2 separate regions of the Homo sapiens genome follow, and region 1 is linked to region 2. The links come from fine-mapping of genetic effects on gene expression. A gene starts in region 2. The other region holds a variant in brackets. All regions are shown on one strand. Distances are from middle to middle.

What was found. PIP is the estimated chance that this variant, and not a neighbour inherited with it, causes the effect.
Region 1: its variant is the best candidate, but not a certain one, in a credible set for the expression of CRISPLD2 in whole blood (TOPMed, PIP 0.58).

Annotation. Positions count from the first base shown.
Region 1 is chr16:84,913,122-84,917,121 of GRCh38, reverse strand. No RefSeq gene overlaps it. Among named protein-coding and RNA genes, the nearest start is that of LINC02176, 13 kb to the left of the region's middle. The variant G/A (reference allele first, on the strand shown) is at 2,477.
Region 2 is chr16:84,817,636-84,821,635 of GRCh38, reverse strand. It overlaps CRISPLD2 (cysteine rich secretory protein LCCL domain containing 2), which reads right to left and starts at 1,651. Exons shown (of 15, transcript NM_031476.4): 1 at 1,503-1,651. RefSeq lists a silencer at 1,689-1,878.

The DNA.
Region 1 (4,000 bases), 95 kb before region 2:
CACGCACACACGCACACATGGAGGAGACACAGAGCCCCTTTTCTCCATCAGTTTCCTGAGCCCAGCCCGCCAGGCAAGGGGATCGGCGAGGAGGGAGGAGGTTGAAACTCTCAACAAGGCTCCTGGTTCCCCATGCTCTTTGTCAACTCCCTGGGGAGAAATCAGCCGCATTTACTTTCTGCCTCCTTTTAGCCCTTCATTTAACAGGAAAACATCCAAAGGCCCAGGCAAAAAGTCAGAAAAGGGGAGTCATAGAAGCAAACTCTTCTCCCCAGGGCTGAGCAGGTGGAAGCAGAGGCACCTGTCTTTCCTACCCAGGAAATCACACTTTGCAGCCTCTCATCCTCCATGGAGCAGCGGTTTACAGCTACACACACCCTGACCTGCAGCCTGGAGCTGCTGAAATCAGAAAACGAGACCAGTGTCCACACTCGCTCCTCCAGGGTTGGTGCCACCAGCTGTGTGTTCATTCATTTGCTCATTCATTCACCAAAGTGGCACTGGATATAGGCGCTGTATACAGCATCCTGGACATAAGTAACTCCATCCTGGAAAAAGACTCCATCCTACATTTTAAAAGGCATCATGATAACAGGGACCAGATGTTTTGCCTAATCCACAAAGACTGCACCTATCCGGATAAGAACTCCCGGGCACACTCTCTTCCTCTCTCAGTCCCCACCAGAAGATTCTGTGGCCATAAAGAGAGCAGGACTCCCTCAGCTCAAATCTGCCGTCTTAACAGACACTGTCTTGCTGTCACTGTGGTAAGTGCCTGGCATCTGCCGCCGAAGGCTCTGCCCACATCAAAGACTCTTCCTTGGAAGGCGCTGACGGACCACCCAGACCCGGACAGGCCGGGATATCCTTCTTGTCCACATCACTCTCCCTGGAATGGTTCATTAACCCTTTCTCCTATCCTCTCCTCTTTTTTTTTTTTTTCTGAGATGGAGTCTCACTCTGTCACCCAGGCTGGAGTGCAGTGGTGTGATCTCGGCTCATTGCAACCTCCGCCTCCCAGGTTCAAGCGACTCACCTGCCTCAGCCTCTCAAGGCATAATTGGATCAGGGTGCATATAGCATCCCTGGTCTGCAGGGAGCTATCAGATTATGTGTGCCATTTGTTCAGGATAGCACCAGCTACAAGGTGTCATTGCCATGTTCTCTGGCGGCATCTGTTGAGAGGGCCAGGTCTCCCATCCATGCCCTTTCCCTGTGGGGAGATCCCCTTCAGGATCTCCTGGCTGTCTCTTTTTGGGGGCATGGGAGCCTCTGCCTGCCCTCCCACACCAAACCAGGGCATTGCTGCCTCACTGGGCGGCTCCAGGCTTGCTGTGCCCTGGACTCTCTTCCAGGCCCCTCTCCTGAGAGTGTTCAGCTTGCAGGGTGGGGAATACTGCAAATTCTGAGTGGAAATGTGGAATAGGCCCTTCTACGCTTGGGTTTTTCAGGACTGTCCTGGCACTTTCTCCCTTTTTTCCCAGCTGGATCTGGCTCTGTGAGAGATGGGAGAAGGTGACTCTTTCCAGAACCCCAAGTTCATTTAAGCAGAAAAGGGATTTGTTAAAAGGACCTTGAAGATTCCACAGAATCTCAGGGAGGGCTGGAGGACCAAGCAGGGAAGCTCTGCAGCCAGGAGTGGCTCCCAGTTCCTGCCACGGAGCTGTATGAGGGGACCCGCCTGCTTGGTGGCAGTGCTGTGGCTCCACGCAGCCCCCTGGGGTGGGAGCCCAGGCTCTCCTGTTAGACCCACACTGGGGGTGCCATATGAACAGCAGGCCAGTTCATTTTTATTTTTTATTTTATTTTATATATTTTTTTGAGACGGAGTCTTGCTCTGTTGCCCAGGCTGGAGTGCAGTGGCGTGATCTTGGCTCACTGCAAGCTCTGCCTCCCGGGTTCATGCCATTGTCCTGCCTCAGCCTCCGGAGTAGCTGGAACTACAGGCGCCCGCCACCACACCCGGATAATTTTTCTGCATTTTTAGTAGAGACGGGGTTTCACTGTGTTAGCCAGGATGGTCTCAATCTCCTGACTTCATGATCCGCCCGCCTCGGCCTCCCAAAGTGCTGGGATTACAGCATGAGCCACTGCACCTGGCCAACAGCAGGCCAGTTCAACGGGAACTGCAGATAAGCAATAAGTACGTTTCGGGGCTAAGCGTGTCCCATACCGTATTTTATTGTTATTATTTTATTTTGCCTAAATTTGGCATTCCCACATGCTGCCCCTGAAGCCCCCACCGCTCCCCTGAGACCTTTCTGGACCCCACTCCTTGCACGTGGTGCCCAAGCTGCAGGGGAGTCTGGGAAAGCGAGTGTCAGATACTCCAAGTTTCTACAAGGGGAGGGGGCCCTGTCTCGTAGGACTGGGGAGCCCCTCAGACCATTGCCAGCATCTAGGTTTAGGCTTTTGCTCTCCATCATCAGGTCTGGATGGGGTGAGGAGCCAAACTCTCCCCAAATCTGTTGTTTTC[G/A]AGATACAAGCATCTCTTCCCTCAACCTGTTTTCTCTGCCAGAGTGGGGTTTTTTTTTTCCACCTATTTAGACACCATTCTCCACCAGAAGGAACCAGGGCTCCTTGGAGAAATGGCTGATTCCAGGGCTGGGCAGGGGAAGTACAAGATGAGCCAGGAACATCTTGTTGTGCCAGAAAGTCAGGAAGTCCTCGAATTGATGGGCCGCGCTGGAAGGACACAGAGCCAGCTGGACGGAGCTCCCCTCTCCAAATCTGGGACAGTTTGAGCATCCAAATAAAACTGATAGGAAAGCATTTTAATCCACTGCATAAAATAAGAATTCCTGAGTCCATGCCAATGTATATGTGTGTCTATATTATAGATCAGTGATATAATCATATCATATCTACATCTATATATCATATATACATAATATGTATCTAGATAGAGATCGTATATCTGCATGACACACATATAAATATATATCAACTATATAACATACACATATATCATTATACACACACATATGCATGTGTGTATGCAAATAAATAAATAAATGGAGGAAAAGGGAAATCTCTTCCTTACAGTACAACGCCAACTAATAAATGCGGAAAGCACAGTGGAGTTAGAAAGTTCACCTTTGGCAACCATCATAAAATACTTGTCTCAAGAAAGAATCATCAATAGAGGCAAAAACTACTGGGTGAAGTTTTTATGGGGAATAGGCTATTTACATAGTCTCAATATATCTCTCCAGAAGATAATTACTTAGTTTAAAAAAAAACAGAGGCCAGGCACAGTGGCCCACGTCTGTAATCCCAGCACTCTGGGAGGCTGAGGCAGGTGGAATGCTTGAGTCCAGGAGTTTAAGACCAGACTGGACAACATGGCAAAACCCTGTCTCTACCAAAAATACAAAAAATTACCCGGGCATGACGGCACACACCTGTGGTCCCAGCTACTTAGGAGGCTGAGGTGGCAGGATCACCTGAGCCAGGGGAGGAGGAGGCTGCATTGAGCCATGTTCATGTCACAGCACTCCAGCCCAGGCAACAGAGCCAGACCCTGTCTCTAAATAAATAGGAACTTCGCAGTGGACAGATCTGCCAGATGCCTCAGCCAAGCCATCAGAGTCAGCAGCTGCAGGAACAGGACAAACAGATGCGGCTTCTGATACGAGCCACGGAGAAGGACACAGTGTCTCCCCTGCGGTATCTGCCAAAAGTGTATACCCTGAGCCTCATGGTGAAGCAACACCAGACAAACTCAGGTTCAGGGACATTCTTCGAAATATTGGCCAGCTATCTTTAACTAAAAAAGTCAACATCATAAAAGGCAAAGATAGGCTGGGGCCAGTGGCTCACGCTTGTAATCCCAGCACTTTAGGAGGCTGAGGTGGGCCAATCACCTGAGGTCGGGAGTTCAAGACCAGCCTAACCGATATGGTGAAAATCCGGCTCTACTAAAAATACAAAAATTAGCTGGGCTTGGTAGCACATGCCTGTAATCCCAGCTACTCAGGAGGCTGAGGTGGGAGAATCG
Region 2 (4,000 bases):
GTCAGGTTCATGGGTGGAGTTGGCAGTGGGCAGGGAAGTGTCTTAAAGAAAGCAGGGTCAAGAGTGCAGATAGGACCCACCTGGGGGTGACAGCATTCCATACCAGCTGGGGGATCTTAGGCAAGCACTTCACCTTGCTGAGCCTCAGTTTCCTCAGCTGTGAAGTGGGCATCAAGAGGCCTACTCCCCGGGGTGTTGCAGCGATGACAATACAGGTAAACTGCGTGGCACAGACCGCGTGCCTGCCGCACAGGCAACACAGTCACACACCCACCCCTTCTCCTGAGTGGGAACAGCCAGATCAGGGGCAGAAGCAGAAAATCAGGTGCATACAACCCAAGGAGCCCTGGGACAGCCGACAGTCACAACTCATGGCCTCAGTCTACTGGAAAGGACCACGCCCCGGTCCTGTTCTGCAGGCTCTCCTCACTGTCAGACATCAGACCCTGGATGGGGAAAGCAGGCTCACCCCATTCTACCAGGGCAAGAGGTCCAAAGGCCCAAAGGGGAAACTCACAACCCCACTCTCGGTTGCAAGGCAAGCTAGGCATTTGCACGGGATGCTTCTCTCAGCCAGGGCAGCAACTCACATTTTGGCTGAGAGACGCCCAATTCAAGTTGGACTGCGATGAGCAGGCATCAGCGAAGTCCTCCCTGGCTTGTCCACCAGCCCAGCCTTAGCAAGGGAGGCTCTGGGTCTGCAGCACATGAGGGACTAGCCCTGGCTCTGTCCACGTGGGACGACCGATCTCCCCCACACTCCAGAGTGAGCCCTCCGCTTCCAGGGTAACTCTCCCCACGCAGGAGTTATGCAGGTGCCCGCTCTGGCTAAAGAAACCCAGAAACGTGTTCCCCCAGACTGCAGAACCCTGACATGGCCCCAAGTCTCTACACATCCATTTGAAGCTCTGGAGACAGACAGAGCTGGGTTCCAGCCCTGGCTCTGCCCGGACAACTTACTTCACCTCTCTGACCCTCAGCATCTTCATCTGAAATGTGGGAAGAAGGCTACCTTGCAAATGAAATCACAGAGGGGCGTGGCCCTCTAAACTGCAGCTGAATGCACATGCCACTAGATCACCCTGGTCCTCCAGACATGAGTAGGACACATTCTAATGCCTGCCATATCCATGCCATCAGCTTTCCAGTTATTGACACCCACTACGAACACAGGAATGCAACAAATGCTAGTGAACTGCACGAGGAAGGCAAGAGAGTAAACAGCCTCTAAGGAGCAGGATTCTGCGCTCAGATCGGCGTTGAATCCTGGGTCCTTGGAGTCCTGGCTGCGAGGTCCTGGACAAATGAGTTGTCCTCGCTGAGCCTCAGTTTCTCCATCTGCAAAAGGGCATGTCGCAAAGCTGTGTTCCGCTATGCAAGCAGAGCACTCGGTGTGGTGCCAGCACACAGTCAGCCCTGCGAGGTGGCATCTGTCCTAGTTATTCCAGCTTCTCGGGGGGGTAACAGTTTGCAAAAGGGAGAAGCATGGAAATCACACTTACCTCCGCAGGGCTCCAATCACCAGCTCGCTGGCGTCTCCCGCGTCCAGCAGACGCGGTAGCAGCGGCGACAGCGCGGGCACAGCAGGCACAGCGGGCACAGCGAGCAGACAGCTCAATAGGAGCAGCCGGAGACGCCCTGGGATGCGAGTGGGTGCCGGGGCTCAGCGTACCGCCTCTTGTAGGCTCCCCGGAGCCCGGAGGCCACGCCCCCAGATCGCTGGCGGCGCTGGTAGGACCGAGCATCACCGGCCCCGCCCCCGGCCCCGCCCCGCAGGCTCAGCGGGCTGAAGGAGGCGGGGGGCAGCTGAGGCGCGGGCGCCGGGTGGGCGAGGAAGGCGGGGCCGCTGGCCTCCAGGGCCGGCTAGGGACAAGGAGACGCTCAGCTCCCTCGCCACTGGCCACACAAGCATAGTTTTCATTGAGCGCTTACTATGCGCCTGGCGCGGTGCCAAGCGCTTCCCACAAGGGGCTTGCAAATTTACCAAACCCCAGCTCTCTGCAGCTCAACTGGAAAATAGGAATAAGGAGGCGACCTCCCAGGATTTTAGCAAATGAAATCCGCAAGGGCTGGGCGCTGTGAACTGTGGCGCGGTGCAGAGTACACAGTTACTGAGGTGACTCCCACCCTCTACACGTGCTCAGAAAACTTAGGCCCCCTCTTCCCAATTTGCAGACGAAGAAAGGGAGACTTGTTTCCGGATGGGGCCGCTAGCGCGGGGATCCAGGCTCCGCACTTTACCTTCAACGACCCTAGGACGCGTTCCCAGGAATCCAGGGAGGTGGAAATCACCTCATTTCACAGATCCAGTAGCTGAGGCTTGGAGAAGAGCGTGCCCCAAGTCCCGTAGCTAGGAGCAGTGCAGCATGTTCATATCTCTTTTGCCCGGAGGCATTTAGCATTTTTAACCTGTGCAGGTACATACGGAAATCAATTTAGAGCCAGACGAAATCACCTTTGAAACAGGTAAATCCACGTTCCTTAAGAGCTAAGGGACTGCCCCGTGCTCCCGCCTCAGTCACAAAATGTGGACGGGTATGCAGGCACTGCGCGGTAAGGTGCTGGGGCCCAAGGGCAGGAGGGGGCCTGTCCGCACTGCTCATCTCCGCACCAAGACACCGGAATTAGCTCCTCCAGCATTAACTCATTCCCCAAATACCCATCGAGTCGCTCTGTGCCGGGCCCTGTGCTATACAGCAGGCACAAACAAGACACCTCCGGGATCTCAGAGTCTGGGGCCCCCACGAGCTAGGGCACGTGGGAGAAACAAGGATGGGGAATGGGTGGAACAAGGACTATGGAAGGCTGCCTGCGTGACGTGGACTCAAACAGGGAAGGCTTGCCTAAGATTTTGGTGCGGCTCAAATGCAGATACAGAATAATGCAGACTGGCCGGGCGCGGTGGCTCACACCTGTAATCCCAGCACTGTGGGAGTTTGAGGCGGGCGGATCACCTGAGATCAGGAGTTCGAAACCATCCCGGCCAACATGGTGACACTGTCTCTACTAAAAATACAAAAATTAGCCGGGCATGGTGGTGCATGCCTGTAGTCCCAGCTACTTGGGAGGCTGAGGCAGGAGAATCGCTCGAACCTGAGAGGCAGAGGTTGCAGTGAGCTGAGATGGCGCCATTGCACTCTAGCCTAGGAGACAAGAACAAAACTCCATCTCAAAAAGATAATAATAATGCAGATGTTTTCTGTTATCTTTTTTTCCTCTTTTTGTTTTACTTTTCTCAGTCTTTGAAGCATCATTCTTCAGAGGCACTCAACTGGCATGCAGTCATCCAATAATTAAGCACCTACTATGTGCTGGGCTCTGTTTCAAGCACTGGAGGGCTCAGTAGTGAATAAGACTGTTCCAGAACAACAGTCCTTGGATTGACAAAAGACAAATCCAAGGGGAGAAGAGATCTGTGTTAGCAGATGCCTTTGGAGGCCTGGCACGATGGCTCAGGCCTGTAATCCCAGCACTTTGGGAGGCCCAGGCAGGTGGCTTGAGTTCAGGACCAGCCTGCAACATGATGAAATCCAGTTGCTACAAAAAGTAGCCAGCATGGTGGCATATGCCTGTGGTTCCAGCCACTCAGGAGGCTGAGGTGGGAGGATTGCCTGAGCCTGGGAGGTGGAGGTTGCAGTGAGCTGAAATCGAGCCACTGCATCCCAGCCTGGGTGACAGAGCAAGACCCTATTTCAAAACAAAACCAACCAACCAAACAAACAAACAACAACAAAACAGATGCCTCTGAGTACCTGACCCCAAAGCATTATACTGCCAAATCCTGCCACCCCCAACAACCCTCCAGGCTGGTCCTGTTATTAGCCTCATTTTTTCAATGATGGAACTGAGCACAGAGAGTGTAAGTCACTTCCCTGAGGCCACACAGCCTCTGAATAGAAGAGCCAGGATTTGAATTCACACTCTCACCCACGTGGCTGCCATTGCCTGTGACCATGAAACCTTGGGTGCAGGGGAATGGAATGAACTGGGTCCCTACTCC